Regions from separate parts of the Homo sapiens genome. Here region 2 is linked to region 1. The links come from fine-mapping of genetic effects on gene expression. A gene starts in region 1. The other region holds a variant in brackets. All regions are shown on one strand. Distances are from middle to middle. Region 1 holds the start of BRD1 (bromodomain containing 1). Region 2 overlaps BRD1 (bromodomain containing 1).

Region 1 (15,612 bases):
GCCTCTTTCGGCTTCTGGTGGCCGTCAATACTTTGCATTCCTTGGCTTGTGGCCACATTACTCTGCTCTGTCTCCATTGTCACATAGCTGTCTTTGCTCTGTGTGTCTGTGTCCCAATTTCTCTTCTTATAAGAATACCAGGTGCTTGCTTCAGCAGCACATACACTAAAATTGGAATGATACAGAGAAGGTTAGCAGATTGTGTAATTTAGAAAGGGATACCAGTCATTAGATTAGGGCCCAACTCAATGACCTCATCCTAACTTAATTATTATTATTATTATTATTTATTCTTTTTTTTCTTATGTCTTTTTTGTTGTTTTTTTTTTTGAGATGGAGTCTTGCTCTGTCGCCCAGGCTGGAGTGCAGTGGCACGATCTCAGCTCACTGCAAGCTCCACCTCCTGGGTTCACGCCATTCTCCTGCCTAAGCCTCCCAAGTATCTGGGACTACAGGCACCCATCACCACGCCTGGCTATATTTGTGTATTTTTAGTACAGACAGGTTTTCACCGTGTTAGCCAGGATGGTCTCCATCTGCTGACCTCGTGATCTGCCTGCCTTGGCCTCCCAAAGTGCTGGGATTACAGGCTTGAGCCACTACACCCGGCCTATTATTTATTCTTATTTATTTATTTATTTTTTGCCACTACACCCGGCCTATTATTTATTCTTATTTATTTATTTATTTTTTGAGATGGAGTCTTACTCTATTGCCCAGGCTGGAGTGCAGTGGCGCAATCTCTGCTCATTGCAACCTCCGCCTCCCAGGTTCAAGTGATACCCCTGCCTCAGCCTTGTGAGTAGCTAGGACTACAGGCATGCGCCACCATGCCCAGCTAATTTTTGTATTTTTAGTAGAGTCGGGGTTTCACCACGTTGGTCAGGCTGGTCTCAAACTCCTGACCTCAGGTGATCCGCCCGCCTCAGCCTCCCAAAGTGCTGGGATTACAGGCGTGAGCCACTGCACCTGGCCTCATCCTAACTTTATATCTGCAAAGACCCTATTTCCAAATTAGCTCATATTCCCAGGTACTGTGCTTAGGACTTCACCATACCTTTTGCAGGGGGGACACAATTCAACCCATAACCGAGGAAGGAGACAGCAGAGAAGTTTGGGGATGAAGACCAAAAGCTGAGTGCCAGATACGTTGAGTTCGAGATGCCTACAGGACATCCTGGAGGAGAGGCTGAGAAGGCAGCTAGATGTTGGAGCTGTCAAAGCATACTTTTTAAAAAGTTAGAAACAGGGCCAGGCGCGGTGGCTCACGCGTGTAATCCCAGCACTTTGGCAGGCCGAGGTGGGCGGATCACGAGGTCAGGAGATCGAGACCATCCTGGCTAACATGGTGAAACCCCTTCTCTACTAAAAATACAAAAAAAAAAAAAAAAATTAGCCGGGCGTGGTGGTGGGTGCCTGTAGTCCCAGCTACTTGGGAGGCTGAGGCAGGAGAATGGCATGAACCTGGGAGGTGGAGTTTGCTGTGAGCTGAGATCGCGCCACTGCACTCCAGCCTGGGTGACAGAGCGAGACTCCGTCTTAAAAAAAAAAAAAGTTAAAAACATGACTCATACAACTCTAAAGTGAAGACGTGTCAAAGATTTATTTTAATCATTAATGAGGAAACCAGCATGATGGTGAGGCTGGTTCAAAAGATTGGAGAGAAGGAAGTATTTGTAGTGACTTAAAAAAGTTTGAGTAATTCTGCTTATTTAGATTTTTAAAAAAACTGGTTAATGTTCTACAGGGCCATAAACCGCAACCTTTTCTTTTTTTCTTTTCTTTTTTTTTTGAGATGGAGTCTTGTTCTGTCGCCCGGGCTGGAGTGCAATAGCTTGATCTCAGCTCACTGCAACCTCCGCCTCCCAGGTTCAAGCAATTCTCCTGCCTCAGCCTCCTGAGTAGCTGGGATTACAGGCGCCCACCACCACGCCCGGCTGATTTTTGTATTTTTAGTAGAGACAAGGGTTCACCATGTTGGCCAGGCTGGTCTCGAACTCCTGACCTCAGGTGATCCTCCCACCTTGGCCTCCCAAAGTGCTGGGATTACAGGCGTGAGCCACTGCGCCCAGTCAAACTGCAACCTTTTTTACTGTAATCTTTTCCACTGGACAGAAATAATTTCTATCACTCACTACTGGGCAAAATTTATTTGCATTGCTGTCAGAGAGGAATAATTTTACTTAGCCATCTATCTTCAACAAATTAAAGTCTACCCTTGCTGAGTTGTAAAATATCGTAATCAATAGTATATAGCAAGTTAAGCAGGCGCACACTCCAGAGGATCCGAAAATCTGCCTGGCAGGCTTGCTCAGGAACATAGCCTGCCACTGAATGGACACACTCATTTTGGGGTGTCTAATCCTTAATCTGGGACATTTTTATTAGCTCCCTCTTGGGATGATAAATAATCTCCGAAGGTTATTCTTGACCACAGAAAGCTAGTCTTGCATTCTGACCTAATTCATCTACACAGGTGCTGCAAGAAGTGGTAATTACCACGCACGAGTGTCCTTGTTAGGTGACACATGTAAACCAGATGGCGTTATGCAATGACCAAGCCGGAAAATCAACTTCTGTCTGGACGTGTCATCATAAGGAATGTAGGACTGAGCCTACATCACACCTGAGATTTTTTGTTTTTTAATTTCTCTTATTTGCTCTTCTGTTCCTAGGCCAGGAAGCCGAACCAAATCCACCTCCCTCAGGTGTGCCCGCGGGACCTGTGTGTGTGCAAGTTTCTATCTTCCAGAAGGTTCCAGTGTCTGCCATGGCTCTTGGCCTGCCAGGAAGTATCCTTCTTACTACTTGTGAGGCTGAGGCTTTGTGTGCCAGAGTACAGGTGCCCGGCCAGTATGGGTCTGAGGGTTGTGTGGGCATTGGTTCAGCACACAAGCCACAACCCTTGTTCCTTAAAGGTGGGCGTGTTGTGGAAGCACAGGAAAGTTATTCTCAAATATGACACCCATGTAAGGCCTGGGCTCCACTATTAATTTGTCTGATTATATCCTGGTGACAAGGAGGACAAATTTCTACTGCAACAATGCAAATTACTACGTTTTTATTAAAAGTAAATGTCAGTAAAACTATTTTTCCTGAATTCTGAAGTGAGAAAAACACCATTTAAAGAACGTTTTAATGTTTGTGAAAGGATAGTCTCCTAAAGTAGATTGTTGCAGATACCGGGTAAAAATAAAAATTAAATAAATTAAAGGTGAGATAGATCAAAGAAGAAGGGTTTTGTCTTATTCCTGCCAGAAACAGAATATCAGAAACAACATGAGCATCCTCCTCCTTGCCTTTTCTTGGGCTGTGCTTTCAGCCTGCAGATATAACCATTCTGGAGAGCAGTGATGCCCCCAGAACCGCATTTTTGGCTGGTGCAAAATGGGGGGCAGTGGTTGTGTCTGGGGCCAAGTTTCTGTCCTGTATAGCCTAGAGATGGTTATGTAGCGGGGGACTGAGCTACTAAGTGAAGGCATAGATAGTTATGTAGAAACAGAGGAGGGTAGAATCAACTCCATGCTAGATTGTAACTGGAGGTACAGGTATCAGTATGAACTCAAGGTTTGCTAAGAGGTATCAGAAAAGATATGGGTGTGTGTGTGTGTGTGTGTGTGTGTGTGTGTGTGTGTGTGTGTGTGTTTGTACATACTTATTTCCTAGCTCTGTCTGCTGAGTGTAAATGGAATCATATTCTGTAATCTTTTGAGATTTCTTTCTTCCATTTAAAATTATGTGTTTGAGATTTGGCCGTGTTGGTGGTGGAATTCATTCATTTCTGTTGCTGTGTGCTATTCCATTGCGTGGATACACCTCACTTTGTCCATTTTACCGTCCTTTGATATTTAAGATTTCTCCCAGTATTTGCTATTAAAAACAGCGTTAAAATAAAAAAAAAAAAACACCAAAAACAGTGTTGCTCTGAACATTCATGCACATGCTTCCTGATGAACAAGTTTCTTTTTTTCTTTTCTTTTTTTTTTTTTTTTTTTAGATGGAGTCTTGCTCTGTTGCCCAGGCTGGAGTGCAGTGGCGCAATCTCTGCTCACTGCAAACTCTGCCTCCTGGGTTCACACCATTCTCCTGCCTCAGCCTCCTGGCTAATTTTTTGTATTTTTAGTAGAGATGGGGTTTCACCGTGTTAGCCAGGATGGTCTCAATCTCCTGACCTCATGATCTGCCTGCCTCAGCCTCCCAAACTGCTGGGATTACAGGCGTGAGCCACGGCGCCCGGCCCTGATGAACAGGTTTCTTAGGCACACACCCAGGCACGGAATGCACCTAGGAATACAAATTGACTTAACCCTACAGCCGGGAATGGGTATGCACACTGGGGGAGCTTGCATCTTCTCAAAGTGGCCACAACAACTTCTCCCATACAGCATGCTTCTCTTAAAATGTGATGATAACACATGTCCCAAGAGGTGGGGTCTGTATTCTCCCTAACTCTTGAATCTGGACAGGCTTGTCCCTATGGCAGAAGTGATGCGTGTGACTTCAGAAGCTAGGATGTGAAAAGTGATACAGGTCCCACCTGCTTCTCTTGAGACCCTTGCTCCTGCAGCATGGCTACTATTCCATGAGGATGTTCCCAAGGCCCTCAGCCCAGAGCCTGGATCAAGGTCCCAGCCACGTGAGTGCACCATCTTGGAAGTGGCTCCTCCAGCCCCTAGTGGAGGTGCCCCAGATAAGGATGCAGGAAGTAGTCTAGTTGTACCTGCTGAATCCTGCCCAAATAGCAGATGTGTGAACAAAAGGAATGACTGCTGTTTTGAGCTACAAAGTTTTGGGGGTGGTTTGTTTTGCAGCAAGAGGTAACTGATAAACATGTCCACTTTCACTGGGTAACGCCTTATGACCAAGATATTTACCAAATAATTGTCCCACTCGACATTCTGGCCAGCAGGGTATTGCTCTGCCATCTTGCCATCGCTGAGTATTGCCACATATGAACGCTGGTGCCTATTTGGTGTGTATTTTGTTTGCATTTCCAAATTTACTAGTAAGATGATTGGCCTTTCCATGTTCTCTGCAAGAAGCCTGATTATGACATGGGTTTCTTTGTTGATTTGGGTTTTGTGCATCATTTTGTTGGCTTGTTTGTCTCTTTCTAATGGATCTGAAGGGGTTCTCTATATATTCTAAATACTAATCATCTGCAAGGTGTACATATCTTTTAGTTTTTCATTCTTCAGTCTCTTTATGGTGCCTTTTGAGGAACAAACATATGATAATTTCCATCCTTTCATTTACGAAATGGAGTCTTGCTCTGTCACTCAGGCTGGAGTGCAGTGGGGCAATCTTGCCTCACTGCAACCTCAGCCTCCTGGGTTCAAGTGATTCTCCTGCCTCAGCCTCCTGAGTAGCTGGGATTACAGGCACGTGCCCCCATGCCTGGCTAATTTTTCTATTTTTAGTAGAGATGGGGTTTCACTATGTTGGTCAGGTCTTGAACTCCTGACCTCAGGTGATGCACCTGCCTCGGTCTCCCAAAGTGTTGGGATTACAGGCATGAGCCACTGTGCCTGGCCCCATCGTTTTATTTTTCATCTGTTATTTTTCAGGTGAATTTCTTGTAAGAATATTTCACCATATTTATATTCCATTCAGAGAGGTTGTCTTTTAATAGATGCATTTAATCCAATCACATTCCTCTGATTACTCAAATGTTTGAACTTAGTTCTGCCAACTCATATTATGTTCTGTATTTATCATGATTTTATCTTTTACTCATTCCTGTTTTTTTTTTGTTGTTGCTGCTGTCGTTTTTCATTTCGCTTTTTCCTCAGCTGTTCTGAAAGTGGTAAATTCTTTTTCCACCATTCTTGTGGAAACTTTCTGATAGTTAAAACTTTTTTTTTTTGTTTTTTTGAGATGGAGTTTTGCTCTTGTTGCCCAGGCTGGAGTGCAATGGCACCATCTCAGCTCACTGTAACCTCCACCTCCCAGTTTCAACCAATTCTCCTGCCTCAGCCTCCCAAGTAGTGGGATTACAGGCATGCGCCGCCACGCCCGGCTAATTTTTTTTTTTTTGTATTTTTAGTAGAGATGGGGTTTCTCCATGTTGATCAGGCTGGTCTTGAACTCCCGACCTCAGGTAGTCTGCCCGCCTCGGCCTCCCAAAGTGCTGGGATTACAGGTGTGAGCCACCATGCCCAGCTAAAATTTTTAACCTTTTTTTCTATCGATTCTAAAATCCTCGAACCAAACAATACAAGAGCTTTCGTGCACTTTCACTTCCTTCTGCGCCCCGCCTTACCATGTGTCATGTTGAGTTCATCCGGGATTTCTCTCAGGTTGATTTTCTTTTAACGGACCAGACTGATTTACTTGCTGGCATCCACGTCTTACTCTTGGGTCCACTTTTCACTTTGTTAAGGTATTTCTTCTAGTACTTTTACAGACTGCGTGTGTGGTAAATGTGGATGTTAACCGGCGGTGAAGACACCTTTATTTTGCTGTCTCACTGGAACGCTAGTTTCACTGTGTATGAGTTACGGTTCAATTCTCTTAGTATTTTGGCAACCCCTCCTCTGTAGGATGAGTCTGAATTCTAAAGAAGATCCTCTCCGAAGGCCTTCCTGAGTATCCCTGTGACATGCCTACGTTCGAGGCTTTGTTCTTCACTCCTCTGAGCATCACCTGCATTGTCTGAGAGGCCACTGTCCCCGTCTCCTCTTCTGTGAAGGGTTTCGTGTCTTTTCATCTTCTCTTTCATGAGACTGTGTCTTACTTTTGCTCTGTGTTGTGGAGAACCTCCAGCTTGGTTTCCATCTGGCTTCCCTGAGGTGGAGGAGAGAAGCGTTCGGGCTCAGCTTGCTTGTTTGGCCACAGGTAAACAGACATCTGTAGAATGGAGGTGACACGAAGCTCCTGGGTCTGGTGCAGAAGAGGTCAGGGCCCCAGTGGCCTGTACCCCCTAAGCTCAAGGGTGTGTCTGCAGGGAGTCCTAGATCAGGACTGACCACTGGGGCCTTGGCTGGGGTCCTACCTGCCCTTGAGTCGTCACGTCACAACCCACACACTGGGTGCCATGGGCATGAGGACTGGCCAGGAAAAGGCCTGTGGGGCCTGGCCCCTATCAGGGACACTTGGGCGAACAAGGCCACCCCACTCCCAATAAGGTGTTTGGTGCAGTGCCCCGAGCAGTGGGGCCGCTCGGCTGCCCCCGTGGGGACGGTCTGTCCCAGGGTGGACAGCTGCTCTTCCTGAGGGGCCTGCCTGGATGCCACAGGCTGTGCTGCTGGAACCCAGGGATTCCACAGCACCATCGTCCTGATCACAAATTCTCAAGGAAACCAAGGAGCTCCTGCCTCACCTTAAAACATTTGGGATTTAATCTTGGAGTGAAAATTGTTATGACCCCACTGAATTTTAGAGTTTACACAAAAGGCCAAAGTGAAGGCAGAGACTCAGGCCTCTCAACTCCCACCCGCAGGGGCCTTTTCTTGCAACCTTAAAGGGCATCTGCTTCACGCCGGCCTCGGCAGGGCCCTCACACTGGCAGGACTACTTGCACACCGGGCCTGACACTCACTAGGGGAGGCTCCCCAGCCCGGCTGCACCACCCACCTCTACCTAGTCGCGTGTCCCGGCCAGTGCCCTTTCCACTCCCACCCAGTGCCCCCGCAGGGCCCCCTCTGTCCTCTTAGGGACCTCCACTCCCGGACCAATAGCCTCCTGCCTCAGGGCCCCCCACTCATGGGCCAATCGCCCCCTGCCTCAGGCCTCCCCCCACTCGTGGGCCAATCGCCCCCTGCCTCAGGCCCCCACCAACTCGTGGGCCAATCGCCCCCTGCCTCAGGGCCCCCCATTCCTGGGCCAATGGCCTTCTGCCTCAGGGACTCCCACTCTCAGCTGGTCCCCCCCGCCTCAGGGACCCCCACTCCTGGCCGTTCCCCCGTCAGGGCCCCCGACTGGCGGCTGCTCCCCCATCCTGCCTCGGGGCCCCCCACTCCCGGGCCAATGTCCTTCTGCCTCAGGTACCCCCACTCCCGGCCCGTCCCCCCGCCTGTGGGCCCCCCACTCCAGGCCGGTGGTAGCCCCTGCCTCAGAGCCGCCCACTCCTGGGCCATCTCCTGCCTCAGCGACCCCACTCCTGGGCCAATGCCCTTCTGCCTCAGGGACCCCCACTCCCAGCCGGTACCCCCCTGCTTCAAAGCCCCCGACTCCCGGCTGCTCCCCACCTGCCTCGGGGCCCCCCACTCCTAGGCCTACGTCCCCCTGCCTCAGGGCCCCTCATTCTCCATCCTCCTGACCCCCTCAGGGACCTTCTGGCCCGGTCCTCCCTAACTCAAGGGCCCCCACTCTCCATCCTCCCGACCCCCCACTCCCAGCCCGGTCCCCGCCGCCTCAGGGCCCCCTTTGGCCCCCGCTCCTCGCGGCGCCCCCTCCCCCGCGCGCGGCCGAGGCAGCGGAGTCCGCGCGTCATGGCGGCGGCGGGCGGGGCGCGTCTCGCACGCAGCGCGCCGGGCGGAGCGCTCGCCGCATTGTTTGCTTCGCTGGGGAGCGAGCGAGCGACCCGGCCCTGGAGTCCGAGCCAGCCCCGCGTCCCGCGCCCGCCGCCCGCCGCCCGCTCCCGCGCCCGCGCCCGCGCCCGCCGGCCGGGCCCCCCGAGCCGGGCCTCCAGCTGGGCCCCGAGCCCGAGCCCGCGCCGCGCGAGCCGCTGCCCGAGAGTCCGCGGCCGCCGCTGCCGGGCCCGGAGCCGCCGCGGCCGAGAGGGGCCCGCGCCCAGGAGCGGCGGCGGGGCCCGGCCTGCGCGGCCGTTGGCGGAGGAGCCGCGGGCGCCATTAGCACCGCCTCGGCCGCGCCGGCCCCCGCGCCCGCCCGCTTGCCGGGCTCCCGCGGCCGCGGCGCCCCGAAGGTGAGTGGGCGGGGGCCTGGCCGGGGAGGCCTCCCCGCCGCCTCGCGGGCCGCCCGGCCGCCGCCGCCGCCTCGGCCCGGCCTCTCGGGGTTGTGGTGCCGACGCCATGTTTGGCGGCGGCGGCGGCGGCGGCGGCTCCGCATTGTCTGCGGGCCGGGAGCCCGGGATGCCGGGGAGGCCGGGCGGGGAGACCGGGGAGGTCGGGCCGGGCGGCCGGGGAGACGGGCGGGAAGACGGGGAGGCCGGGCGGGGAGACCGGGTAGGTCAGGCCGGGGAGTCGAGGGAGGCCGAGTCGGGCTGTGGGTCTCGGCGGCCTGGGCCGCGGGCGCCTGCCCGGAGTCCGCGCTCGAGTCGGGTCGGGCCTCGGGCAGCCGCCGAGCCGGCCGGGCCGCCCCTTATGTAACAGACAGGCCCGCCGAGCTCTGCCAAGACGGGAACTCCCTGTGAGCAGGGACGCGCCCCGAGATCGCCCAGGAGCCGCGCGGCCTGCGGCGGCCGGGCTTGGGAACCGGCACCGCGGCCTCCCCGGGCGTTTGCAGGGAGACGCCTCGCGACGAACGCGAGGCTTCCCCGGGCCTTTTAAAACGAGTGACACGATTGAGGCGCAGTTCACGGGAAACGCGGCTCTTGTGAGCGGACGCGGGAGTTCTGAGAATCCGTAGCAGCGGGACCCCCTGCCCCGCGGGGTGCGGCCCCGTCTCCCCAGAAAGCGCGGCCGCCCGTGTCTGTTTTTGAGGGTCTGTCGCCAGGTGGTTGTGTAGTTAGTGGAATCGGCGGATGTTTTTGTTTGGCCGGCCCAGCGCCGTCCCGAGTGCTGTGTGCTGCACACAACTTCGCACAGCTCAGCGGCCGCGGCCCCTGTGGCCTTGACCGAGAGGCCCGGCGCGTGGCCGGCTTCTCCCTGGGCGGGCGGTGGGAAGATGGAAGCGGCCGTCTTGTGGGCAGCCTTCCCCGCCTGTGGCCCGCAGGGCTCTTCGATGTACTTAAGGGAATTATTCCTTGAGAAGCTACGTGTGTGCCCCCGCGGATCCCTCCCAGTGGAAATGCTTGTCCCAGTGGAAGGGCCAGGGACAGAACCGGCCCAGGGGGGAAGCGGTGAAGCAGAGGAGGTCGTGGGTCGCCCTGCCCTGCTGAGGGCCTACTTTCCCCGGGTCCCAGTTGCATGTTGAGGGTATGGAGCTGCTGTGGCCGTGAAGCCTTCGGTTCAGTTCTCCCCTTGTAGAAAGTGTTGCGATGAAGAGCTTCACGGCTCCCTGGGAGAGAGTGGGTTTCCAGGGGCTGCTTGTCGTTAGGGCGACTCAGGACTTTGCTGTCGAGGGGAAAATGACAGGTTCGTTTCTGATCTGGTGAGTAACCAACTGTTGCTTCTGCCCCACCTCAGTAATGACGCGTGTCGGCGTCCCGGGTGCACTAGGGTCGCTCTCTGCAGGCTGTGGTGTCACCTCTGCAGGGCTCACGGGGCCGGCTGGGGGGTGGCTGTGCTGACAGCTCCCCAGGAATCCAGGGTTGAGTGGGTACCTGGAGGCCCTGGAGATGCAGGGGGTCTGAGGTTTGGCCGACCACATTTTCTCTCCTATTCCTTTCTGTAGGTAATTGCAATCTAGTTTCAACATACAATGAGGATTTCTGTCTGATACAGAGAAAGATACCCAGTGTCTGGAGGGTCTGTCTTAAGAAGTGCTCTTGAAGTCTGCTGGGATTTCCTTTCGGGACTCACAGAGGGAAGCCTGCTCCCTGAGGGCTTTTTCTCAGGCCCAATAGATCAGGGTAAGGCTGCTGTGGGTGCCCCTGATCCCCCTGGGCCCCGAGGCCAGGCGTCCCTGACGTGGCAGGGCTAGATGCAGAGTATGCCTTGGGCTTCAGCTGAGAATATTTGTTTTGCGAGTCAGTCACTGAAAAATCATTTTGCTTCCTGTCAGTGAAGTGTGGCGCTTTGGAGGGAGGCACTGCCCAGCAGGCGGTGGTCTTCACAGGAGGTGTCCACACACCAGGCACCCTGGGGACAGCTAGGAATAGACGCAGTCCGTGGTGTTGGGACAGCAGAGGCCTCTGCCACGAGGAGCTGGAGGTATGGGAGGCAGCTCACTGGTTTTGCCTACCTCTGGAAAAGCAGATTCTCCTAAGCCTCTGTGGCCAAGTCTTCAGGCACCTGAGCCAGCGCTGGCGACCCTCCTGGTGAGGGTCTCTGCAAGCAGCGAGGGGTTCCTGGGGGTCACCCCTCGCTGTGGAGCCTGAGTGGAGCGTCTGCCTTCACGTGTGCCGGGGAGAACAGAGATTCCCTTTGGCGTCATGCATGTGTCTGGATTCTCTCAGAAAGGAGGAGGACGTGGAAGGAGGAGGACGTGGCCAGCACCATGGTCTCAGTGGGGCTTGAGGAGTGCCCCTGAGGGGAAGGGGCAGGTTGGCTCAGCCTGTGGTGGTTTCCATGGTGGTCACTGCCAAGGCTCTGCAGAAGCGGGGTTGGGGCCTCCCAGGGGCCAAGACTGTCCCCTCAGACCAGTACAGGGCTCCCCTGTTGGTCCCCTGTGCCGTGTTGTGCGTGTGGAGGGCCTGTCTATAGAGGATGGACAGGCTGTGATCTGTCTCCTACCCCTGGCCCCAGCAGGAATGCTGCAAGGACTGTGGTGACTCTGGGCTCATGGGAGTGCTCTCCTGGGAGTAGTGGGGAGGGGAAGAGTGGTTTAGGGGGAGCATCCGATAGGACCAGGTAGCCACTGAGCATGCCTGTCTGGTGGGCATAGCCTCTGTGCCTGGTGGGGTCCAGCCCTGTATGTGGACTTCCTGGGGGACCGCCTGCATGCTGGGAAAGTCCTGCAACTGTGGGCTCTGGGCCGGACCCCTCCTCCTTGGGGAGCGTTGCTGTGGTCTCCGCAGCCTGTTGGTGTGGTCTGAGAGGGGACTGGTGTGTGGTGGTAGGGACGCAGGTGCTCAGGAGGGCTCCTCAGGCTGCCTCTCTGCCTGTTACTGCTGCTCCCTCCCTGGTCCTGGGGACTCGCTCAGGCCTGGATGTGTGGTTTTGGACACCTTGGAAAGAGGTTAGCTGTGAGTTTTGCTTTGATTGGGCTTTGAGCTGCTGAGCTAGATCTGTCCAAGCATGCTTTTGTGGTTTTCTCGAGTCTTTGGTCACCCTGCGTAGAATTACCTTTACTTTTGCCTTCATTTTAGGTAATCATTACCAAATGAGGAGGAAAGGACGATGTCATCGAGGCTCTGCAGCGAGGCATCCTTCTTCCCCATGCAGTGTTAAACACTCCCCTACGCGAGAAACGCTGACCTACGCTCAAGCTCAAAGGATGGTAGAGATAGAAATTGAAGGGCGCTTGCACAGGATCAGTATTTTTGATCCCCTGGAGATCATATTGGAAGATGACCTCACTGCTCAAGAGATGAGTGAGTGCAACAGCAACAAGGAAAACAGCGAGCGGCCTCCTGTCTGCTTAAGAACTAAGCGTCACAAAAACAACAGAGTCAAAAAGAAAAACGAGGCCCTCCCCAGCGCCCACGGCACGCCGGCCTCGGCCAGTGCCCTCCCGGAGCCCAAGGTGCGCATCGTGGAGTACAGCCCTCCGTCCGCCCCCAGGAGGCCTCCTGTGTACTACAAGTTCATCGAGAAGTCGGCCGAGGAACTGGACAACGAGGTGGAGTATGACATGGACGAGGAGGACTATGCCTGGCTGGAGATCGTCAATGAGAAGCGCAAGGGCGACTGCGTCCCCGCCGTGTCGCAGAGCATGTTTGAGTTCCTGATGGACCGCTTCGAGAAGGAGTCGCACTGCGAGAACCAGAAGCAGGGCGAGCAGCAGTCTCTGATCGACGAGGACGCCGTGTGCTGCATCTGCATGGACGGGGAGTGTCAGAACAGCAACGTGATCCTCTTCTGCGACATGTGCAACCTGGCCGTGCACCAGGAGTGCTACGGGGTGCCCTACATCCCCGAGGGCCAGTGGCTCTGCCGCCACTGCCTGCAGTCGCGGGCCCGGCCCGCCGACTGTGTGCTGTGCCCCAACAAGGGTGGTGCCTTCAAAAAGACAGATGACGACCGCTGGGGTCACGTGGTGTGTGCCCTGTGGATCCCAGAGGTCGGCTTTGCCAACACGGTGTTCATCGAGCCCATCGATGGGGTGAGGAACATCCCTCCAGCCCGGTGGAAACTGACATGCTACCTCTGTAAGCAGAAGGGCGTGGGTGCCTGCATCCAGTGCCACAAAGCAAACTGCTACACAGCATTCCATGTGACGTGTGCCCAGAAGGCTGGCCTGTACATGAAAATGGAGCCCGTGAAGGAACTGACTGGCGGTGGCACCACCTTCTCCGTCAGAAAGACCGCTTACTGTGATGTCCACACGCCTCCAGGCTGCACCCGGAGGCCTCTGAATATTTACGGGGATGTCGAAATGAAAAATGGCGTCTGTCGAAAAGAGAGCTCGGTTAAAACGGTCAGGTCCACATCCAAGGTCAGGAAGAAGGCAAAAAAGGCTAAGAAAGCTCTGGCTGAGCCCTGCGCGGTCCTGCCGACCGTGTGCGCTCCTTATATTCCCCCGCAGAGGTAAGCGTGTCCAAGCATTGAGTCCACAAGGAGCCTGCAGTGTGGGACCCTGGGAGGACGTGGGCACAGCCTGCAGGGCCCGTGCTGTGTGGTCATTGCGTTTCTAGTTGGCGCAGCTTCCTAATATTCCCCTGAAGTGTGGTTCTGCTTGTTTACCACGTCTTTTTGGGGAATAGATGTTGTAAAAGATTTTAGTCTGTAGGCTTGGAATAATCTGTAGTTTTCTATGTTTTTTTTTTTGGAGACGGAGTTTTACTCTGTCGCCCAGGCTGGAGTATAGTGGCGCAATCTCAGCTCACTGCAACCCCCGCCTCCTGGGTTCAAGCAATTCTCCTGCCTCAGACTCCTGAGTAGCTGGGACTGCAGGCGTGCGCCACCATGCCCGACAAATTTTTGTATTTTTTAAGTAGAGACGGGGTTTCACCATGTTGGCTAGGCTGGTCTCAAACGCCTGACCTCAAGTGATCTGCCCGCCTTGGCTTCCCAAAGTGCTGGAATTACAGCACTTGCTCAGCCTTTTTTTTTTTTAAATAGGGTTTTGCTCTGTTGCCCAGGCTGGAGTGTAGTGGCACGATTTCAGCTCTCTGCAACCTCTGCTGCCAGGTTCCAGCAATTCTTGTGTCTCAGCCTCCTGAGTAGCTGGGACTACAGGCGTGTGCTCCCATGCCCAGCTAATTTTGTATTTTTAGTAGAGGCGGGGTTTCACCATGTTGCCCAGGGTGGTCTGGAACTCCTGAGCTCAGGCAGTCTGCCTGCCTCTGCATCCCAAAGTGCTAGGACTATAGGCGTGAGCCACCATGCCCAGCCGTGCGTGAAGATTTTTAAGAATTTCAGTGACTAAACTTTAAGAAGGAATGAAGCCCACGCAGGAACTCTGTATGACTTTCAACCCGAGGGGCTCTGGCCTGGGCTTCCCAGTGACTGCCGGCATCGGGACATCCACTGCTGTGGCCTTGGCCCCGTTTCCCGTGCTGTGCCCCCCACTTGCTGCAGATGCCCTGAGGAAAGGGTGGCCAAACAAGGGGAGGAGCTGTGAGCACAGATGGGGCCTGCCGGTCAACAGGGCGGGTAGAGCCAGCCTGGTGCTGAGCTTGCAGCTTGGCTGGGGGAGACGCCTAGAGCCCCAGTACCACACAGACCCTCCAGGACTGCCGGGGGTCAGTGAGCAGGACCCTCTGAGGTGTCAGACCTGCCCCACATGTGAGGGGAGGACAGCACAGGTGGGACGCATGCAGGCTGAGCTGCATCGGGCGGTGAGGCTGGGAGGTTGCAGTGAGCTAAGATTGTGCTACTGTACCGCAGCCTGCGTGACAGAGTGAAACTGTGTCTCAAAAAAAAAAAAAGAAGTTTTAAGTGATTTTTGTTAATATTACTCTACTTTACCAAAGTGAAGTCCAGTTTCTTTTCACAGAGCTGTAAATACTCAGATAATTAGTCAATTCAGACAGAATGAACAAAAAATGCTCATAATCCTTCCCATCCAGGGAAAACCCTGTCAAAACCAAGGTGTTTGTCTTTGTAAATTAATCTGACTTTGAAGAGATGGTTTTGCTTGGATTTCTACCTATGAGTCAAAAAGTCTAGGGTTTGTATTAAGAGCTTCTGTATAAGAGGTCTAAAAATTTCAGCTTTACTGAAATTGAAGCAAAATAAACAAAATGTGATCTAACAAAATGAAGAGCCAAAAGTCTGAAGTGCTCCCTTCCCTGGCCAGTACCAGATGATGACCTGCTCTGGGAGAGGCCGGGCCTGGCCGGGCCGCACGCTCTCTGTTCTTTGGCTCCTGATGTTGGGTAGGCAGGACTGAAGGAGGCAGTGTTTGCATGCAGGACATGGGGGCTGAAGTGGCCAGGGCTGATTGAGAAGAAAACTCGACCTAAATATTTGAAAGCATGTATTGGAGCTAAACCGCGTACTGTGTGGTTCTGTTCTTTTCCTAACTTGGGAATAAACTATTATTTCAGCTTCGAGTAGAGAGAGAGAAACAAACCTGGACGAGTGTTCCTGGCCGCGGTCTCTGCAGTCTGGGTTTCCCAGTCTCCAGGAGATGCTGGTGCTTCAGGCCACCTTGCCACCAGTGGAGGAGCTCCCAGTGCGCCTGGCCTGTTGGCACCATGGTGCTGGACCCACCTCTGGGGTGGTTGTGAGGGGCAGGCTCTCAATACAGTACTGACTGCTGCCTGAAACCGGGTTTACTGCC
Region 2 (15,612 bases), 45 kb after region 1:
GTTGGTGTCTGCTGACATGGTGAGGCAGGTCAGTGCAGTCAGGAGGAGCAGGGTCCGCACCGTGAGCTGGTGAAAGGGGCTTGCATTTCGAGTCCTTGGGATTTCCAGTCACAGTGATGCCCTTGCCAGAGGCTCCGGGGCGTCCCCTTTAGTCCAGGGCAGCTGTGGTCCCTTGAAGTGCACGTGTGGAAGTCCCCCTGCCGTGCACGGGCGCTGAGCACGTGGAGAACTGTGGCCCTCAGGAAAGGAAGGATGCATGTTCCTCGGGGTAGAAGGTGCGGAGTACGCAGCTTTGTCCCTTCAGGATTGCAGAGGACGGAGGCTTGAGGCAGGGTTGTTGGAGGGACAGTGTGGTTGCTGCTCGTGAGCTGAAATGTCTGCCTGTGTTACGCTGTGATTTTCCAAAGCGTCTTGTGGCTTCGATACAGAAACCTTTGATTGACATAGCAGGTGGCCAGGTGGGCAAAATATTGCGGAATTGTTCTTGCAGACTTAACTAGGTTTTAGTTTCTTAGAGTAGCTGGTTTGGATTAGATAACCATTTTGCCATTTGGAATATGTGACAAGTTCCAGGGACTGGAATTCTAGGATCCTGACTGATACATTGACGGGGTCTGAGAGGCTTATGCCCGAGTTGTATCGAGCATGTTCTGAGCTTTTCCCATGTGCAGTTCAGTGACAGCCTGAGATGGCCCAGAGTCAGTGAGCTTTGAGAGGAGTCTTCCTTCTTGTATGTCAACTTCCAGTCACATTTCCACTCGAGGGACGGGTTGGGCTTGCCTGTTGTGTCGTGGAGCCTGGAGGCTCAGGTCCTGTTTTTTTCTGATTTTATGGATGAGGAACTGAGGCACTGAACGGTCCGGGGGCCTCTGTGGTCCCGGCTGGGGGAGGGGCCTGTGTGGTCCCGGCTGGGCAGGTGGCTGAGCACCCAGACGACAGCGACCTCTGTTCCTGACCACGGCCTCCTTTGTGCCTCTGGTCAGTGCTGCAGGAACGCATCCTTTAGCCTGCGTGCTGGCGGCTGGAGCCCGGCCTGCATGTGGAGCTGCCGCAGAGAGGCCAGGGGCGTGTGGGGTGCATGCATGGCTGAGACAGGGCCACAGGGGCCCGCTTTGGGATAGACCAGGGGTTAGGGAAGTCCCTGCAGCGTGGAGATGGTTATGAGTCCCACATGGGGCATCCTAGCTGGGCCGAGAGCTGGAGGTGTGGAGGAGGGGTTGTGGACCATGGTTGGGGAGGGCCTGCTGCAAGGCAGGGACGTCTGCACGTCTCAGGGCTCCTGCCAGACAGGAGTGGTGGTTCTGAGGGTTGCACCAGAAGCAGGAGATGGGGGTTTACGGTGCCCGTTAGATAGCTGTGGAGAAGGTGGGCTGTAGGTGGTTGGGGGAAGGGGGGTCTCCCGGAGGTGCTGGGAGGAGACTCCTTCAGGCTCCATCTCTGCTGGCCGGGTGCTGTTGCACCCATAGAGGCCAAGACTGGGGTTGACCACTGGCCTTGGCCCTGCAGAGGCCATTGGGATTGCAGTGAGCAGTTGAATGTCGTAATCAGGGCGAGAGCTCGGGGCGGGGGGGGGAGGCTAGGAGGTGGAAGAGGAGGCAGGAAGTGAAGTGAGGCCCCAGGCCCTGTGCCCCAGACACCAGCTGCGTCAGGACGCTGCAGGCTCAGTGCTGAATCCCCTCCTGCTGCTGTACAGGCACCAGGGATGCTCATGAGCAGCCTTTCAGCAGCCCTTCTCCGCATTGCCCAGTTCCCTCCGGCCAGTGTTCCCAGGTGTTTCACAAACACCTTTTCCTTAAGCCTGTTGGCGACATTGAACAGGAGGGAGGGAGTTTTGTCACCTCGCATGTGCCCCTGCCTTGGGATCCAGCATTCCCACATGACAGCTGTGCTCCCTGCGGCTGACACGGGAGGCTTTTTGTTGAGGTGAGGCTTCCCCCTTGTATTTGAATTGGCTGTGAGGTGCTCTAAGGCGCCGAGTGTCATTTAAAATCAGAGGCACCTCGCAGCCGAAAGCACTGCTGCCCGGCGTCATGGCCCAGCCTTGGGAGAACTTTCTTCAGCCTCAAAACATTGCTCTGAGTCCTGTTAAGTTGTGTAGTTTTGTATTTTCAAAACAACTTTTTGAATGACAATAGTAACCATACATACTTCAAACGGTTTTAGGAAAGTTTGCAGGTTTAATGAAATGAAAACTGTACCCAGTGATAATATATACTAAGGATTATTTAAAGTGTTTTATGTCACTTTAAATAATCACAAAATCCTTGGTTTTATGTCACACTTCCTGTTGTCAGTACCGGTCCTGCTTGGAAGGAAGCCTCAGTGGCTGGGCTTGGCTTGTTGTGGCGTCGCCTCGCCCTGTTAGCCTCGTGCCAGAGCCTGTCCGGCCCCCTGGACTCGGGACAGTGCACAGAGCCCCACAGACCAGCCCCAGGCCGTCCTCCTGACCTCGGGCTTTTTACCATTTCACACTTCCGGTTTTTATAATGTCAAAAAGACTTTAAAAAGAGGTTAAAGCCGTCTTTTTCCAAAGACTTCTTATTTTTAAAAGTCAGATTTTTTTTTCCTGAAAGCTCCCATCACAATATTTGGGAACGTGGCACGGACTTCTGTGCTGTGGGGAGCGGGGCTTTTTTCCCTGCCTTTCTTGAAAATCATCCACAGCCACTCACCACTCCCTGTTTTTTTTGTTTGTTTGTTTGTTTTTGCATTTTTGACTTAAGACCTTGACCAGAGATCAGATTTAATGTTGCCTTCCTTTTATTTGCTAACTTCGTGGCCCAGTAGAGCTCTGTGGGAATGCCCGTTTAAGGCCCCTTTAGTTATGTGAGATACCTTTTCTTCCTCAAGGTAAGTGAATTATTCATTGCAGAAACTGTCATGAACTCGAGTGACGTGTTTAATATTGGCGCATGTGAAATAATCTTTCACAGTTTTTTTCAGAGAGTAACTGTGTGCCTGGGCACTGCACCCAGGGCCGCAGCCTTTGGCGTTAGGGAAGCACACACAGTGTGGCCCGAGCCCACGGGGCCCACACTGCCGAGCAGACAGTACATGCGATGCCTTGTTTCCTTAACTGAATTAGTATTTTGGTGGACTTCACATTTATAGTAAGTTTTATAATAGATTTTATAATCTTCAGTTTTCAAAAATCACTTTATTTATAATTTTTTCAGGAGATAAATCTCCCCCTAAACTTGAACCATCAGATGCATTACCTCTTCCTTCAAACTCGGAGACTAATTCAGAACCACCAACCCTCAAACCAGTAGAACTCAACCCAGAGCAGAGTAAACTTTTCAAAAGAGTCACATTTGATAATGAATCACATAGCGCTTGCACTCAGAGCGCACTGGTAAGCGGACGCCCTCCAGAGCCCACCCGCGCCAGTAGTGGCGATGTGCCGGCGGCGGCGGCCTCCGCGGTGGCGGAGCCAGCAAGCGATGTAAACAGACGCACTTCTGTTCTCTTCTGCAAATCGAAAAGTGTAAGCCCCCCAAAGTCTGCCAAGAACACTGAAACCCAGCCAACTTCTCCTCAGCTAGGGACCAAAACCTTTTTGTCTGTAGTCCTTCCGAGGTTGGAGACTCTTCTGCAGCCAAGGAAAAGGTCGCGGAGCACATGCGGAGACTCCGAGGTGGAGGAGGAGTCCCCAGGAAAGCGCCTGGACGCAGGTAAATGCCGCGGGCGGCCCTGAGAGGCGCCCTTGCCGACCAGTGCCTGGAGCGTCCTTCAGGATCATTGGTGTGACGGGGGGGGGGGGGTGTCCAGCTTCTGTTTTTGCAGCATTCTCTTAATTTCCAGAGAAGACAACAGTGCAGTGTTTTCTTTGAAAAGCCTTGAGTTGCGGGTCTGAGGCCGGCGCCTTCGTGGGGGGCCTGTTTGCCACGAGAGATTGTGCAACCTTGCTGGGCTGCCCTGGGCCAGGGGTCGATGGTCCTTGGTCCTGTCTTCTGCCACATACTTCCTCTCTGATTTTTTTTTAAGAGAGTCTTGCTTTGTCACCCAGGCTGGAGTGAGTGGCTCACTGCAGCCTCCAACTCCTGGGCTCAGGTGATCCTCCTGCCTCAGCCTCTTGTGTAGCTGGGACTACAGGTGCACACCACCACTCCCAGCTAATTTGAAAATTTTTGGTAGAGATGGGGGTCTCGCTGTGTTGTCCCGGCTGGTCTTGAACTCCTGGCCTCTGACTCCCAAAGTGTTGGGATTAGATGTGTGAGCCGCTGCACCTGGCCCCTTCTGATCTTTAAAAAAGTACTGAGAATGAATTCAGGTGTAGTTTTAATTGGTCATCTTGACTTTGCTGTGCACATCTGGATAAGCTGGTGACTGGCCGCTCCCAGCACTTGTGGGAGCTCGACTCTGCAACCCTCAGTCAGGTCTCCTTGCAGCCCCACAGACCTAGGACCTGGGGTTGAGCCTGGCCCTTCCCTGGACCTCTGAGAGGACCTGCCCCTGTGGTAAATGCAGTACTTTGCAGTTGATTTCAGCAACATTTACTCATTGTTTTATGTGGCCCTCTTAGCCACATATGTGATGAGGTATTAGGACCTGCTGAAATAGCACTGGAAAGCGCTTCTCATCTCTTGCTGCGCTTTTGTAACTGAACTCTGTTGAATTCCTCGGTGAGGGTGTTGCCGTGTGTGTGCTGTGCTGGGAGCACTTTGAGGAGGCCGCTGTGTTCCTGCAGCCTCTGCTCCCCGCCCCTCAGAGGAAGCTGAGGAGTTTGTCCTTTAAAGAGGAGCAGCTGTCATCGGTTTGCTTCTTCGGTACTGGCTGCGCTTCTGGAGGTGCCGGCTCAGGTTGCCAGCGACTCTTTTCTGGAAGCGTGTCTGGAGCATGTTTGTCATTTTGGTTTTTGTCCCGAGTCAAGGCTTGGTTCCCGTCTGTCCTGTCTGCCTGTTATACCTAGATAAGGAGATGCGCATTTTCTCCTGGCTGTGCTGGTGTGCCGTGGTGCCTCGTGCACTTGAGCAGTGAGAGAGGGTGGGGCTGGGTGGGTGTTGCTTATTTCCCAGAGTGGCAGCAAGTGAGTCCTGTGTCATGGAGCCTCACCAGGCCGGGTGCAGATGGAAGGCTGTGGTGGGCAAGACCTGCCCAGGCCACTCCCTCACATCTTGTCCCTGTTCCTTCTGCTGGTCTCTGGCCTGAAGCGTCCGGGGAGGGGAGTGAGACCAGGCACTGTCAAAGGTCTTTGTGCAGAAGGAGGCTCACTTCCTACCCTTGCCAGCAAGCAGGTCATGCGTCTTGTTGCCAAAGTAATTTCTGGTAAATTTCATTTTGATTTGTATGAAAATTTTGCACGTAACTGAATGTGTAGAAATTTTCTACCCATGTCCTTTTACTTTGATGGATTGATGTTAAATTGGCATTTTAAAATAATTTGAAAAAGCTTTTTTGCTTTCTAAGTAATAGGAAGCTATTGAAATGTTTCACAAGATACCAATAAGAATAGATGTCCTTGACTCAGGACTGGGGGATGTGTCTTAACCACGTTGGTCTTTCTTAGCCACCTTTGGTGAAAGACTCTGACCTGGTTTTCCAAGCACCCCGGAAATTCTGTGATGAATCGGGTCAGGGTGCTGTGCACTGGGTACTAGAGGTTGGGTCAGTGTAATTGTGGGCGTCCCCTCTGCATGCAGAACTTGGAGTTCGGCTGACGCTCCACTTCCTCGGGGTTTCACGTCTGTCGGCGGCAGAGGTATGGGGCTGCGTGCGTGGAGGCCCTGCCGGCCGTGGGGCTGGGGTTTGAGGCGGCCTCCCGTCGACACTCAGCAGGATGCTCACGTGGTGGTTTCCACCAGGTGGCCCCACCTGACCGGGCCCTGCCCCAGCTGTGGGCTCCCACTGTGGACAGTTTTGCCGGCTGGCGGCCACGTCCTCAGCAACCTCTCAGGCTCGTTCATCAGATGTCCCTTGTAGAAGAGCACGTGTCCCCTCCGGGCCACTGTCTTACATTGGAGTGGAGTGTTTTGCGGGCTTCCCGTGGTGACGGTGGTGTAGAGCAGTCTTACTGCAGACCTTCAGTGAGCGTGGCCCATGGTGGCTTTTGAGAATCATGGTGCCCTCTGATCCTGACTGAAGTGGAGATTTCTGCTCTCTCATTTCCGAGTGACAGTGGATTTCCGTGGAGGTGCGGTGAGTTCCTGAGCTCTCTCCTGAGCAGCCGGGAGCCTCAGCAGCATTAAGACCAGGCCCTCGGGAGTGGGAGGCATTCCACTGCTGTGGCCGAGGCGCCCGGGGAAGGGCTGGGCGTGCTCTGAATGGTGCCAGTCCCGCCATCCGCCCTCGCTTTGGTTTCACCGGAACCTTCTGGTGCTCTGCACATGGGGGATTTCTTGCCCAGAGCTGCAGTTCTTCGCAGTCTTAGGACAGGAATTATCCGGAACCTTCTGATGTTTTCCATACATGCATCTGTGTGCTCTGAACTTTAGGGAGTTATCTGGCATTTTCCAGCACACGCACAATTCTGAGTTAGGCTGAACAGGGTCGCTGGTCCTGAGGCGACGCACTCACTGTGGGCCTCCTGCCCGTGTCGCCCGCGGGCCGGCTGTGCTGTGCGCCAGGCTTCTGTTCCTGCGATGGCCCAGCCCCAGAGTCTGGCCCTGACTCGTGGCTTCCTTCCTCCGTGACTGCACGCTCACCAGCAGTGAACCGTCACCTGAAGCGGCCTTCCACTCGCCGCCGTTGCGGAGACCCCTGCTGCGAGTCTCTGTGTGCACGTGCTGGGGCGTGTGAGAGCGTGGGGGTGTCTTTGTCTACTCGCCGCCGTTGCGGAGACCCCTGCCGCGAGTCTCCCTGTGCACGTGCTGGGGCGTGAGAGCGCGGGGGTGTCTTTGTCCACTCACCGCCGTTGCGGAGACCCCTGCTGCGAGTCTCTGTGTGCATGTGCTGGGGCTTGAGAGTGTGGGGATGTCTTTGTCCACTCGCTGCCGTTGCGGAGACCCCTGTTGCGAGTCTCCATGTGCACGTGCTGGGGCGTGAGAGCGCGGGGGTGTCTTCAGTGTCCTTCGGCTGTTCAGGGAGGAGGCTGAGCTGTCCTGCCCTTTCATTCAGACTAAATGGCTTTTTCACTGTTTTCCAGGTTCTCACTTTAACCACTAATGTGCTGGGTAGTTCACTCTTTGGACCCTAATCATTTTCTCTTACCTCAACTTGGACTGGAGTTCTGCTAAGCGGCCGTTTTGGAATGCACAAAGATCACTGCATCTTGCCTTTCACTTAATTCTTGCGGATCACATTGGAATCATCAGCTCAAACATCCTCTAGACAAAATCACAAACAGCAGCCCTGGAGGAGCTCTCCCCCACCCCAGCCCACCCCCTCTGTAAGTCAGAGCCCGGCAGTGGGAATGGTGCTGGCGCCCGGTGCACGCCTGGAGCTGGCGGGATGTCGTGGCACCTCAGCCTTCCCTCTGGACAGTCACGAAGGACGCAGAGGAGAGCCCGGCACCGACTGGGAGCCTGCTGCAGCTGACGACACAGTGGACAGCATTCTGAGGCTGTCCTGAGCATGTGCGGAGCCGTCCCATAGTGACTGGTGGTTTGGGTGTGACGGCCATGCCCAGGCGCGTTGTGCTGTGTCTGTGCCATGGGGTATGGAGGAACTTGGCTCGGCACTGTCTGAGGATGTGGCATGGACAGTGCGTGCTCACTCACTCGCTAGCATCTTCTGTATTTCTGGGTTTTCTACCTGATTTCCTTCTCCCCTTACTTCCCCTTCCTCTGTTTTTTCCCCACAATGCCCAGTGGATTCTTGAGCAGTGCTGCTGTTTGTCTCTTGCTGGTCACCACGCTGAGTGCCCCTGCGGCCAACTGAGAAGTCCTGCTCGTGGGGTGGGGCATCTGTGCGTGGGATCTTGTGCAGGCGTCTGTCCTGGGCCTTGGGTCTGTCTCTGACCATCCCAGCTGCATTGTCATGGAGCTGGGTCCCAGCAAGAGCAGGTCTCGTGCAGGCGTCTGGCCTGGGCCTTGGTTCTGTCTCTGACCATCCCAGCTGCATTGTCACGGAGCGAGTCCCAGCACGATGGGCCTTGGGTCTGTCTCTGACCGTCCCAGCTGCATTGTCATGGAGCAGGTCCCAGCAAGATGGGCTTTGGGTCTGTCTCTGACTGTCCCCAGCGGCATTGTCACAGAGCAAGTCTTGTGCAGGCATCTGGCCTGGGCCTTGGGTCTGTCTCTGACCATCCCAGCTGCATTGTCGCGGAGCGGGTCCCAGCACGATGGGCCTTGGGTCTGTCTCTGACCGTCCCAGCTGCATTGTCATGGAGCAGGTCCCAGCAAGATGGGCTTTGGGTCTGTCTCTGACTGTCCCCAGCGGCATTGTCACAGAGCAAGTCTTGTGCAGGCATCTGGCCTGGGCCTTGGGTCTGTCTCTGACCATCCCAGCTGCATTGTCGCGGAGTGGGTCCCAGCAAGAGCAGGTCTCGTGCAGGCGTCTGGCCTGGGCCTTGGTTCTGTCTCTGACCATCCCAGCTGCATTGTCACGGAGCGAGTCCCAGCACGATGGGCCTTGGGTCTGTCTCTGACCGTCCCAGCTGCATTGTCATGGAGCAGGTCCCAGCAAGATGGGCCTTGGGTCTGTCTCTGACTGTCCCCAGCGGCATTGTCACAGAGCAAGTCTTGTGCAGGCATCTGGCCTGGGCCTTGGGTCTGTCTCTGACCATCCCAGCTGCATTGTCGCGGAGTGGGTCCCAGCAAGATGGGCCTTGGGTCTGTTTCTGACCATCCCCGGCTGCATTGTCACGGAGCAGGTCCCAGCAAGAGCAGGTCTCGTGCAGGCGTCTGGCCTGGGCCTTGGTTCTGTCTCTGACCATCCCAGCTGCATTGTCACGGAGCGGGTCCCAGCAACATGGGCCTTGGGTCTGTCTCTGACCGTCCCCGGCTGCATTGTCACGGAGCAGGTCCCAGCAAGAGCAGGTCTCGTGCAGGCGTCTGGCCTGGGCCTTGGGTCTGTCTCTGACCGTCCCAGCTGCATTGTCACGGAGCGGGTCCCAGCAACATAGGCCTTGGGTCTGTCTCTGACCGTCCCCGGCTGCATTGTCACGGAGCAAGTCTTGTGCAGGCATCTGGCCTGGGCCTTGGGTCT[G/TG]TCTCGGACCGTCCCGGCTGCATTGTCACGGAGCAGGTCCCAGCAACATGGGCCTTGGGTCGGTCTCTGACCGTCCCCGGCTGCATTGTCACGGAGCAGGTCCCAGCAAGAGCAGGGTGCTGTTGGAATCTTCTTCCGTGTGTGTTTTTGTTGAGAGGTTGAAAAATGCACCAAAACTGCTCTTCTTTTAACGATGGTAAAAGTGAAACTGAAAACAGGAGATAGTGGGCTCTCCTTTGTCACTGCGTGGGGCCCTCAGGGCTCTGGTCTTCAGGGTGCAGGCTCAGCCCACCTGCTTCATACGGCCAAGCTTCCCATGAGCCGGAGAAGCCGAGGTGGCAGCTTGGGTGCCAGCGGCAGGGGCGGGCAGGGGCGGGCTTGTATCCCGTGTTGTGGGGTTGCGTTCCCATGGCTCCGTGCCCTCAGGTGTCTCGGCAGCCACTGATCAGGGCCTGGTGTTCTTACACCTGTGGCCTGGAGGATTTGTGGTGTCCACATGGGTTGGGGGCTGGGAGCCTGAGACCAGAGGAGACTACGGCCCATCAGTCAGACCTGCAGGCCTCCGCCTCCCCAGGTGGGCCCTGGGGCTTCTCTTCCCTGTGGGGAGGGGCGGTGTCTCAGCCGCTGTGGCCTTCAGTCTCTCAGAAGACCCTTTGGGGACCTCCCGGGACAGTTTCAGGTGTGCTGTGGACGTACCTGGTGACGGGCAGGCTTCCGGGGACTGCGCTTGGCTGGGCTGTGGGACACCTTTGCGCCATCTCCTTTGGGGGCAGAGAGGGACATTTCTGTGTTCAGTCTTTGGCCTCCTAGGAGGTCACTGGGAAGGCCCTTGAGGGTGGGTGGACCCTGGCCGCTGTGGGAATTCCGTGCAGCTCCTGTGTTGATGGGGCAGCGGCTCTTTCCTGGCAGCCGCCGCCTCTTTTAACGTATTTCTCACAGTCACCAGCTTTACTTTCAGCGTTAAAAAAAAACCTCGTGCTGAAAAAGTTGCTGAAAGTTGCCCCTTGCTATTTACATGATTTAGAGGCTTGGGCTCGGCCTCAGTGCCTGCTGTTTGCAAATGCCTCATGGACCGGGCACCCATCTCTGCAGACCTTAGGCCCTGGGTTCCCCACGTTGGGCCCCACCTCAAGGCTGGCCTGGGCTTCAGAATGTTCTGGGCTGAGGTCCTTGCAGGGGTGCTGAGGTGCGGGTCATGGTGGACATCTCCCAGCTGGCTGGAAGAGCCTCCCAGGGCGGGAGTTGGCAGGGCCGAGATTGAGAGATCTCAGAACCATAGCTGTCTTAGATTATTTTCTGGTGGTCCAGGTGGAGGCTGGGAGGGTCCGGGCAGCGCAGGCCACCTTGCAGCTCCCCCGAGGTTCTGGGGACTCCAGGCGGTGGCTGCAGAGCCTCCCGGGATGTGTCTGTGTCCTGGTCTGGCTTCTTGGCTTCCTGGGTGACCCCGCACTGCCGCAGCCCCCAGACCGCCTGTTAGCAAGCCTTGCAGCTGTCCCACCCCCGCCAGGCCTCCTGCTGGGTGGTGTCTCGGTTGGGCTGGGTTTGTCTGTGCTGCCCACGTCTTCCCGGGTGCTGTCACATTTTCATGGGTGACACGCAGAACCTCTGTGTGTTCTTGCGTCATACGCGCACTCACTGAATGCTTAGGAAAATTAAGAGGGGCATTTTATCATTCTCCTCTTTCTGAGAATTAAGGACTTGCCTTGTGTTTTAATCCCCTTCCTGGCCCCACTCCATGCACACGGAGCCGGGGCCGTCGTGGCTGCTGAGTGGTCTGTGCATGGCTTGGCTGTGTTGGTGCTGGCACAGCTGCGGGTGATCTCGTGCTAGGGCCCTCAGGCTGGCACCTCTGGGCAGTCTTGTGAAGGCCGCACTGGTCATCGTCTTCCCCCAAGTGGCCGTTGCTCGGCCAACCAGTAACTACTAAAAGCCTCCCCACCCAGGCCCTGGGCTGCGTCTGTTCAGCCTGGAGCAGGCTCACCCTGCACCTGGGGTCTGGAGTGTGCTGGGGGCCGGGCTGTGGGGTGTGGGTCGCCAGGCTCGTGGCTGCTCTCTGGAGACGGGTCACACGCGTTGGCAGACCCCTCTCCGGGCCTGTGGGCTGAATGCTGGCAGGGGTGCTGGGCTCCGTCCGTCCACTGCTGATGCGAGCTGGGTGGGCTTCCCTTGCCTTCACCCACTCAGGTTGGAGTAGGGATGGAGTCGCTGCTCCTGAGGGGTTCTCGGGGGCCAGGACGGGACTTTTAATTCCCTCTTGAGACATCTTCGGGGCCTGAGTGTGCAGGGTCTGAGCCCACTCTGTGATGAGTATGGGGAGCATGTGGAGCCCCAGGGCAGCTCAGCGTGTGGCTCAAGGCCTTCTCCTGTAGGTTTTTAAATTTATTTGTTCCCTTGCCAGAAATGAGTATGACACCCCCAACTGGCCACAGTTCCTGCCTTAAAATGACCGAGGTTAAAATGAGAAACACAGAGCTTCCCTTGGAGGTCACGGTACATTCCAGTCCAGGAGAGACGGAGCCGGTGTCTGACTTGAGTCTGTGGAGGGCAGCAGTGCACCCGCCCAATCTGTGCATTCCCTTCTGAGCTTGATTTAGCCCCTCTGTTTCAGTCAGTCATGCTCATTGAGAACAGACAGCAAGTGTATGAAGCGGGTGGAGGCTGATTCAGCCCCTGTATTGAAAAGTCGGTCGTGCTCATTGAGAACAGACGGGAAGCGTACGAAGCGGGTGGAAAATCCCGCAGTCCAGCCATTCCCTTCAAAACATGCCTCCCAGCCACTCAGGAGGCTGAGGCAGGAGGATCACTTGAGCCCAGGAGGTCAAGGTTGCAGTGAGCCATGGAGTCCATTGCACTCCATCCTTGGTGACAGAGTGAGACATCGTTTCCAAAAAAATTCTACAGAAATGCTCTATTTACAAATTTACATAATTTCCTTTGGAAATAGATTTAAAAATTTTTTAAGGATGAGGTAGGTAGGCAGGAAAACGGGGTTCTTTTTGGATAAAAAAATTCACATGGCCGGGTGTCATGGCTCATGCCTGTAATCCCAGCACTTTGGGAGGCCGAGGCAGGCGGATCACGAGGTCAGGAGATTGAGACCATCCTGGCTAACACGGTGAAACTCCGTCTCTACTAAAAATACAAAAAATTAGCCAGGCATGGTGGCGGGCGCCTGTAGTCCCAGCTACTCGGGAGGCTGAGGCAGGAGAATGGCGTGAACCCGGGAGGTGGAGCTTGCAGTGAGCCAAGATCGTGCCACTGCACTCCAGCCTGGGCGACAGAGTGAGACTCCGCCTCAAAAAAGAAAAAAAAAATCACACACCCCTTTAGCTCTGACACCCAGAGGGCCCCCAGCAGGAACATCATCCCCCCGTTGTGACTCCCATGGGGGACCTCATCGGGGGGCCTTGGGCAGATGTGTTGTTTCCCGTTGACTGACAAAGTCAGGATTTTTAGGGGGAAAATACTGAGATTTGCCTTATTTTTTAAACATTGAGATGATGGAATTGTGAGTGGTGTTTTGTTTAGCTGTGTACAGTACTTGCAGCTTCATGGTGAGTGAGGCCAGACACACTCAGACACGGCGATGGCCCCGGATTTTGTGTTTTAAAGTGTTTCGTCAGCATTTTTGACTTCATGTTAACACTTGTCTTTTGAACCAAGGTTTTTTCTTTTTAAAACCTGATTTCCTATTCCCTGGAGCTCTGCTCCTGTGAACATGTTTTTGTGTCTTTGGTGGCCCCTTCGGCCTGGTGAAGTTTCCGTTCAAACGCGGCCGGTGCCCACGTGGACAGGCCGCCCCCGTGTTTGCACTCACAGGTTGCACATCTGCCCCCATGGCAGGCTCACGGCATCCTTTCTTTGCCTTCACAGAGCCTGTCTAAAGACCCGGGCTTGTCAAGAGGAGCATCTTCATGGTGCTCAGCAAACTACTACGATCGGAGCCGACTGCAGTTTGTTAAGTTGATTTCATTTAACGAGTAACTTTGGTGTCTGCTTACTGTAAGGACTATGCTCGGGAACTTGGGAGTGAAAAGGAAGATGCTGTCTTACCTGTCTGTGAAACGTGCTTTGTAAGATGTGTTCCAAGTGTAACGTCGTTGAGTCATGCTTCAGTGTGCCCTGGTTGTGCTGAGCTCAGGGCCTGCCCGCCTGTGTTCCAGGTCTCACCAACGGCTTTGGGGGTGCGAGGAGCGAGCAGGAGCCGGGCGGCGGCCTGGGGAGGAAGGCCACACCCCGACGACGCTGTGCCTCCGAGTCCAGCATCTCCTCCAGCAACAGCCCGCTCTGCGACTCGAGGTGGGCACCGCGGCCCTGCGCTTCCCACCACGCAGCTCCCAGCACCGCCCGCCCCGCCTGGCTGTCCTGGAAGCCGGGACATTCCAGCTCCCATCTTAGTGTTCTCTGAAAAATTCTGGCCTGGGATTCATGTGTGCTCTGCCCTTGTGGACAGTTTCCCATGCTGCATATTAATCTGCTTTATAGAATTCAAGCAGAAGTAGGAAAAACACTGCGTGAAATAGGAACACAATTTTAGAATCTGCAATGAAGTTTTACACTTGATCTTTACCTCCCAGAATCTGGCAATGAGCACAGCCCTGCCTGTCTGCCCTGTGAAGGCCACTTTGGCCTCCTGAGTCCCCCCTGCCACAGGTTCACTCCCTCCAGACCTGCGCACCCACAGGCCCGTCTGGCCGCGGGGGTGTCAGGCAGGATGCGTGGCCAGCTTGGTGGCGGACAGCTCACGGGACGAAGCCCGAGTGAGGCTGAAGGCAGGGGCGGGGCGCCTGACTCCCTCTGCTCTTCCTCCCGAAGCTTTAATGCGCCCAAATGTGGGCGGGGCAAACCGGCTCTTGTGCGACGGCACACGCTGGAGGACCGCAGTGAGCTGATCTCCTGCATCGAGAATGGGAACTACGCCAAGGCGGCCAGGATCGCAGCCGGTGAGTCGCCCGGACCTGCCTCCATGGCTCTCCACACCTCCTGGTTAGCGTCTTAGGGCTCGACTGCTGGGGACTGGACTCCGGCTCAGGGAGCATGGTGCCCTGTGTGGAGCCCCACCCTGGCCAACCTCCCGGGGAAGGGTTCATCACACACCGAGGGGCTCTGGGCTGTGGCCCTGCCGGGGTGCCTGCGGAGGTGGCGCCTCCTCCATCCTGCCTTCGTTTCCCTGTGGAACGTCCAGCTCTGTGTGGCTGCTGGTTGCCAGGCACTGTCAAGGCTGTCTGGGGTTGTTTAGGTTCAGTGGTCATTTGCAGCTGCACAGGGGACTGACTGCAGGGTGGGTGCCCTCAACTTCAGGCCCCTGGGGGAGGGGGAGGCCCCAGGGTTTGGGGTCGCACAGCCCTCACTGTGGAAGGCAGCCATGCTGTGAGGGGGCATCAGGACGGAGATCCCCCAGGTGGGAGGGACAGCAGGGAGCTGGTCTGGCGGAGGGGGAGCCAGGACTTTGGTTTCCCATTTGGGGTGTCAGTTGTGTAAATGAGGCAGGAGCATGCTGGGAGCCCCGTCCTTGCGGCAAGGAGGGCTCAGAAGGGACTGTGCTGGGCACCTGGAGTTGGAGCCTTGTAGCCTGGAGGGCAGGAGCTTCCCTGGGTCCGTGGGAGGCTGGTGGCCCCAGGTGGGCTGCAGGGACAGTGGGGATGCAAGGGCCTGGACCCCACAGGGGAGGCAGTGGTGCTGCCGGGGTGGCTGAGAAAGGCCTGGGAGCTGGGCTGTGCTCGGGGGACCCACCCTGTTGCTGCACCTTTTGTGGGGGGGCGGGGCGTGCCCCGTGTCCTGCTGACGCCTGTGTCCTGCTGACGCCCCTCTCCGCAGAAGTCGGCCAGAGCAGCATGTGGATCTCCACTGATGCCGCCGCCTCGGTGCTGGAGCCTCTGAAGGTGGTGTGGGCCAAGTGCAGCGGCTACCCCTCCTACCCGGCACTGGTGAGTACGGCTCTCGTGGCGCCTGCGGGTCCAGAGGAGGCTCACACAGCTGCGGGGCGGGGGTGGTCCGAGGAGGCTCACGGCGGTGGTCCAAGGAGGTTCCACAGCTGGCGGGGGGGCGGGGTTGGTCAGAGGAGGTTCACACAGCTGGAAGGGGCAGGGGTGGTTCGGCGAGGGGGGCGTGGGGGTGGTCTGAGGAGGCTCACACAGCTGGGGTGGGGAGGCGGGGGGGGGTGCCAGTGACAGGTGGGGTTGTTTATGGGTGTGAGCCTCACAATGACCTCAGCGGGTCCTTCTCGTGCAGATCATCGACCCCAAGATGCCCCGTGTGCCTGGCCACCACAACGGCGTCACCATCCCGGCCCCACCCCTGGACGTGCTGAAGATTGGGGAGCACATGCAGACCAAGTCTGATGAGAAGCTGTTCCTCGTTCTCTTTTTTGATAATAAGAGAAGTTGGTGAGTTGAGAGGCCTTAGACTCCGGGGACCGGCTGGGGTGGTTGGGGGCCGTGGGCTCGGTGACCTGAGTGTCCCTGTGGTGAGCAGCGTCTTTGTCTGCTGGGCCCTGGCACAGCTAAAGTCGGAGGTGAGTGCTCC

What was found. PIP is the estimated chance that this variant, and not a neighbour inherited with it, causes the effect.
Region 2: its variant is fine-mapped to the expression of BRD1 in whole blood (TOPMed, PIP above 0.99).

What each region holds. Positions count from the first base shown.
Region 1 is chr22:49,820,751-49,836,362 of GRCh38, reverse strand. It overlaps BRD1 (bromodomain containing 1), which reads left to right and starts at 8,490. Exons shown (of 13, transcript NM_001304808.3): 1 at 8,490-8,866; 2 at 12,032-13,412. The coding sequence starts at 12,046. It overlaps LOC105377205 (a long non-coding RNA gene), which reads left to right. Exons shown (of 5, transcript NR_188597.1): 5 at 2,676-3,914. RefSeq lists silencers at 8,356-8,425, 9,156-9,325 and enhancers at 9,826-10,025, 11,235-11,814.
Region 2 is chr22:49,775,452-49,791,063 of GRCh38, reverse strand. It overlaps BRD1 (bromodomain containing 1), which reads left to right. Exons shown (of 13, transcript NM_001304808.3): 8 at 3,177-3,674; 9 at 13,251-13,386; 10 at 13,903-14,030; 11 at 14,905-15,014; 12 at 15,319-15,473. Among named protein-coding and RNA genes, the nearest start is that of BRD1, 45 kb to the left of the region's middle. The variant G/TG (reference allele first, on the strand shown) is at 9,088.